2 separate regions of the Homo sapiens genome follow, and region 1 is linked to region 2. Evidence: fine-mapped expression QTL. A gene starts in region 2. The other region holds a variant in brackets. All regions are shown on one strand. Distances are from middle to middle.

Region 1 (2,916 bases), 45 kb before region 2:
AATAGTCATAAGAAGGGACCATGTAATCTAATCTGACCAAGAGTGATGATCAGATTAGACAGTGTAAAGCTCTTAGATTCAATAGATCAACTGTGGACTTCCTTGGAAAAGTTGGCATATTCTGCATAAATAGACATTGTTACTTTTACAGTGATGTGTTAGAGTATTCTGAACTGCAGTTGAAATAAAACCCAAATTCCAGTGGCTTAAAAACAAAAAGTTTTTATAATAGGATTTGGATTGATGTCAGCTCTCCTCCACAGTCACTTAGTGGTCCCTATAGAGCCATTTGGGGATAGCTCTGCCATCCTCAATATGTGGCATCTAGAAGTTATACAAAGCTTTGCCACACCAATCAACCAGTAGAAAGAAAGAACATATTGGGATAAGTGTGAGGTTTGTATGGGCCAAACGTAGAGGTGACATGTGTCACTGCAATCATGTTTCACTGAAGAAAACTTGGCCACTTCACTGCGAGGGAGGCTGAGTAATGCAGTTTAGCTCTGTGCCAGTAAGAAGGGGAGAATGGATTTTTAGTAGGTAGCTAGCAACCTCTATCACAGTTAGCCCCTTTTGCTGCTATCATCCTTTACATAAAACATACGTGCATATTACTCTGGGGAGAAAACCCAAAATTTTGTCCACTTATTGAATTGTCTACTTGTTGATATCAAAGTCGAGGATCTCCAAATGATGCTCTGGCCTCTTCTGAAAGTCCAGATACAGTTCCTTGAAGTTCAGCATCCTTTGAACTAAAAGACCAGTTATCTTTGCTCCATCTGCCTATTCAATACACAAAAGTGGACTGGCTAACCACACTAAAAATGCCTAAAGAATTCCCTGGTCCAGAGCAATAATGGAATCCTGTAGGGTAGGTATTGCAAAGATCCCCAAACCCTAGAAGAAAATGTTTTGATAGACCCTGGGTCTGTCCTCTGCAAGGAACTTTCTTCCTCATTTTCCTCTGTCTCTTGGCTCTGACCTCCTGGAGAATATTTTTGTCCGTTAGCCTCCATGGACCCTTATACGGTGAATATTGAGGAGTATGTTACTAGGAGTTGCACATCTCCCAGAGCCCACTTTCTGCTGTTACATGAGGGTAATTTTACAGATTCAAGCTTGTGGTTTCCTGGGCATTACGGTTTTCTCAAAAACTCGATAGGTATCTGACCTATTTGTTTCCAGTCAGTTTCATGTGCTCGTAAATAACCCCCAAATTCTTTTCTAGACCTGATCTAAGGTTTGTCTTCCTGGAGCATACCATCTATTCCGCCATCATGGAATCCACATTGAAGTCTAAAATAGCCTGGGTGGCAAAGCAACTTTATTGATATTATCTTTGCCACTTGGCTGGATCTCTCTCTCTCTCTCTCTCTCTCT[T/CTT]TTTTTTTGATCTGCAAATCTTATCTTTTCGTATTTGAGGTATAGAACCCAAGAGTTTTTTCAGCCCCAAGAAGCTTTGTATTTTTTTTTCCAGTTCCACTTTGGCTGGCAAACTAACCAATTCTTGCTTGAGTTTATCTGTTTCTTGTAGCACTTGATTAAAAACAACAAATAGCAGTTGACATACACTAATATTCCTACTCTTTTCACCTGCTTTCCCTAAAGCCACAGACTCAATACGTTCTTGGTCTACCTTCCAAATAATCACAGATGATAATTTTTAAAGTTATCCATGGATAACATGAGGCTTTCACTTTCTAGCCACTCATAACCATTTTATTCCTGCCTTCAGTCTGAATGCTAAGCTAATACCTTCCATTTTAGATGTTTGTTATAGTGCTTACTTTTCGGTACTAGTTCTCATATGAAATAAGGAAGATGGCAAACACAGGGACCCAAAACATCCAGTAGCTTACAAAAAATGTTTTCCTTTCTCAAGGGGGAGGTTTAATCAGCAGCAACAGCGATACTGTTTTTCAGGGATTCAGATGTTCTAGTGAGTCTGCCATTTTCTACTCCTGGCTGCCAACATTGCCTCATGGTCATCATCCCAGTCAGCCAGGAAAGATGAGGAGGAGGAGGAGCATGAGTGGGTGGTTTCAGGACCATCTAAACCTCATTTTACAGATAAGAAAACTAAGAATTTGGCTAAGGTCACATAGCAAGAGTTTAGTGTGGTATCTTTGGGACTAAAATTCAGGTCACCTGCCTCCCACCTCATTACAGCATCCATCACACACACTTATATCCAGTCAAGCTACCCTGACCCAGTAGCACACTCCATGTCTAACCTCCTGCTGTGAAATGCCAACTGCTTTTCAGTCTGCATTAAACCATGGAGCCACATCGTGAATGTGCCATTGGAGAAATACAACAGGATGAATTCTTAACTTTCAGGCTCCCTATTGTCCTCATATATATTACTCCAACTCTCCACAGGGAATCTGAGTTCCAAGGGGTGAGTGAAACAAATTCTGCATAGCCATTACCTCATGTTAACAATGGCTTGGTGATAAACATCCATGGATTGCAGGATGCCTCTAGCAGGGACAGCAGCTTGTTTTTCACAGGGCTTGTTCTAGAAATGGACATGGAAAGGGAAAACAACTTACGCTTGTTTGTTTTTGATCGAAAAAGTGGGCAAATTTAAAATGCATCGGTATGTATTCTTATACATTTGTGTGTCCTGGTTATTTCTTGCAAAACATTCTATGTGGCTCCAGTCATTCACACATAGACCGGCAGTAGTGTTTCCCAAAGGGACCCTTAAGGAATTCTGTTTCTTTGAGATATTTCATGAGAGCATGCAGAGAGAGCTGCAGTCTGTCTCTTGCCTCTAGAAACATCACCTTTCTCATTAGCAGATAAAAGGCCTTGGAAGTCCTTTCATTTAGCCCATTTCCCAAACTTCTTTGATCATGGAACCCATGTTGATTTTTTTCATGTACCGTCCTTAGAACTCAGGTTCCATGGGAC
Region 2 (2,916 bases):
ACTGAGGGTGAAAGGAGCATTATCAGTAATTATGTTTAGACAAAAGTTGTGACTGTCCTTAGTAAACCAGGATAGACGTAGAGTCAATTCAAAAAGAAAGAAAGAACAAACATATCTAATGTACATTAAGAACCCAGGGATATCGGGTTCTTAATGTGCATATTTATTGGATTGCCCAGAGCTTTGACCTTCAAGTATAATTGAGTTCTTGAAACTTAGATTTAGGTTTGTGGTTAAGGGGCAAAATAATCAGATTCCAAATAGGGTTCTGCAGACAAATCCCACAGGTCCTAAAGTCTCTGGGTCTTTTCCTTGCCATTGTGGTATCTCAGGGGCTTGTGTAGGCAATGATAACCAGTTCCATACTTCTGCTAAGAGAAATTTGGGGATCAGAAAATCTTTCTCTGCAGCTCTTCAGAGTCTCTTTAATTTACTTCAATAACAAGGAAATCAGAAATCTCAGGACAGTGCTGGATGTGGCAGAAATTCAGGGCAATTCACAACTTTCCTACCAATTTAGAGTTACCTGTCTGGAATCACTTCAACTGACAGTGGAAGATAGTTTATAAAATTGTAGGGGAGGCAAAATTTCACCTTCGTCCCTGTAGGGTCCCAGCATGGCCCTAGTATTAAATTGATTTAAGATATTAATAGACTGACAGGAGACAACCACACAAATGTTTATTTTACATAGCACGGGGGCCCTCATTAAAAAAAAAAAAGACCTAAAGCAGCAGTTAAGAGCCAATTGCTTATAGAGTGAAATGGACAAAAAATAGTAGTTGTGAAACATGATAAGGCGAAGGGGCTTGGGGTAAAGAAGCGACTAGAAAGATAGGGATTAACAAATTTTGTTTGGACAGATTTCCCTCGACTTCAACTTTCTGTCCTTGAAGATAACAATGTTATTTTATAGGGAAGACATCTTTCACATGGGAATTTCATCTCCTCCTTTTAAGACACATAATATCCATGACAGTGATCTTGCACCTGCTGTTTTTAAGTGCCTTTAATTTAAAATAGTCAATATGCCACAGCAGCATATTTTGAGGTGGTATATTATTAACTCCTTCAAGGCTAAAAGCTTTGAATATGCCGGGGTAGTTACCAGACTGGAGAACCTTCTCAGCTATTTGCCACTTGTGGAATGCATTCAAATGTACTGAGTGCTTATTAACTTTTCTCTCAGTCCCTCACTCTGCTGCTCTTCTCGCCTCATCTCACATAAGGGAAAACTCAGGCTCCAAAAGCAAAGTGATTCCACCAAGATGACAATGGAATCGGGACCTGGTGTCCAAGCCTGGTCCTCGCACGAGGTAGATACTCCCTGAGATGCTGGGGAAGAGCCATGGTAGGGCCACTCATGGCCCTCTTCCTTTGGCGGACCTTGGAATCCACCTTCCCTGCGTTAAAGTGCTCCACCAGGTGACGCCGGAAGAGAAGCCAGCAGTAAGTACATGTGAAATCCAGTAGCTGACCACAGACACGCGAGCGATAAGAAAAAGCTCGCTGCTTCTTTTCTCAACACTCCGCCAGCTGCGTCAGAGGCCCTTGACCCGCACTCAAAATGGCGGCGGCGGCGTCAGCATCAGCGGCCTCCTGCCCGTATCTATCGTGGCGGCGACGGGACCCGCCTCCCTGGGCGCCGGAGTCATGTGACCCACACAATGGCTGAGTGGCTACTCTCGGCTTCCTGGCAACGCCGAGCGAAAGCTATGACTGCGGCCGCGGGTTCGGCGGGCCGCGCCGCGGTGCCCTTGCTGCTGTGTGCGCTGCTGGCGCCCGGCGGCGCGTACGTGCTCGACGACTCCGACGGGCTGGGCCGGGAGTTCGACGGCATCGGCGCGGTCAGCGGCGGCGGGGTGAGCGGCAAGCTGCGGGGATACGCGGGGGGCGGCAAGAGCCCGCCCCGTGGGGCCAGCCCCACAAGCCCCCGCGGCGTTGCCCTGCGTTTCCACCGGCTCCACTCTCCGCCGCATTCCCCTAGGGTGCCAGTCAGCAGGCGGTTGGGGCGGGCCCGCTGCGGGGCTGGGGCGGGTGCTTTCTCGTTTAACACGAACCAGACAGGCAGTTAGGTTTGAACAAATGAGGATCCGGAGGTCCAGAGAGTATAGGTGCAGAGAGTAAAGTGACAGGTCTAAGTAGTGAAGTAGCCGGGGCTGGAACCCTCGTCCCAGGCAGTGGGGCACAGGCTGTCTTCATCGCGGAGATGGCAGTCGGGGAGCGTCGCTCCAGAAAGGGCCAGGGAGTGCGGGAGCGTCCGTGTGCGAAAGAGAACGCCCCAGTGGGATGCTTTGGCTGTGTCTCTCCCTTTTGGAGGAGTTGGTGGGTGGTGGAGTCGTTAAGTCCCGTGCAGTTGTTAGTGCAGGGTAAGAATGGGCTCCTCCAGAGAGGGTAGCGCCGAATAGGATTTCGTTTGGAGGCAGGACTGGTGCCTCAAGGTCTCTTTAAAAGGAAGATAAGCGAGCGGCCTGAAACTACCGGGTACTCCCTCTGGGCCCATGGGCTTCATGGTGGCCGACCTTTGGGTGAGAAGGTTTTTGTTTTTTGGTTTTGTATCCGAAATTACATCTAGGGCTAATGTTTCTTGAAAATGTTAAGGTTGAACTCGGATTTTTGGGGTTGAGTTGGATGGAGCTTGCATCCTTACATTCAACTCAGAACAAGCTTGAATGCCTGCTGCAAGGATGACCTGGTCTGTAGTGTGACCACAAGATATAACCTTCTGCTAGGGGAAATTTTTTTCCCCCTGGAGTTAGCTGATCCTTTTTGATTTTTATGTTTTCATTCCCTAATTTGCAATCTCTCCAGCCGTGCTGATGTGTATTTCAGGGGAAACCTGTGGGCCGATGAGTTAATGCATTTATTCTTTGCTACTACTATTCTCCTTTTTATGTTTTTGGGCTAAACCTGAAA

What was found.
Region 1: its variant is fine-mapped to the expression of GALC in monocytes after Pam3CSK4 (Quach 2016, PIP 0.95).

What each region holds. Positions count from the first base shown.
Region 1 is chr14:88,036,953-88,039,868 of GRCh38, reverse strand. The region is part of intron 2 of HISLA (HIF1A stabilizing long noncoding RNA); the gene reads right to left. Among named protein-coding and RNA genes, the nearest start is that of LINC01147, 12 kb to the right of the region's middle. RefSeq lists an enhancer at 2,100-2,601. The variant T/CTT (reference allele first, on the strand shown) is at 1,381.
Region 2 is chr14:87,991,916-87,994,831 of GRCh38, reverse strand. It overlaps GALC (galactosylceramidase), which reads left to right and starts at 1,650. Exons shown (of 17, transcript NM_000153.4): 1 at 1,650-1,862. The coding sequence starts at 1,668. RefSeq lists enhancers at 1,313-1,642, 1,337-1,837 and a silencer at 1,793-1,982.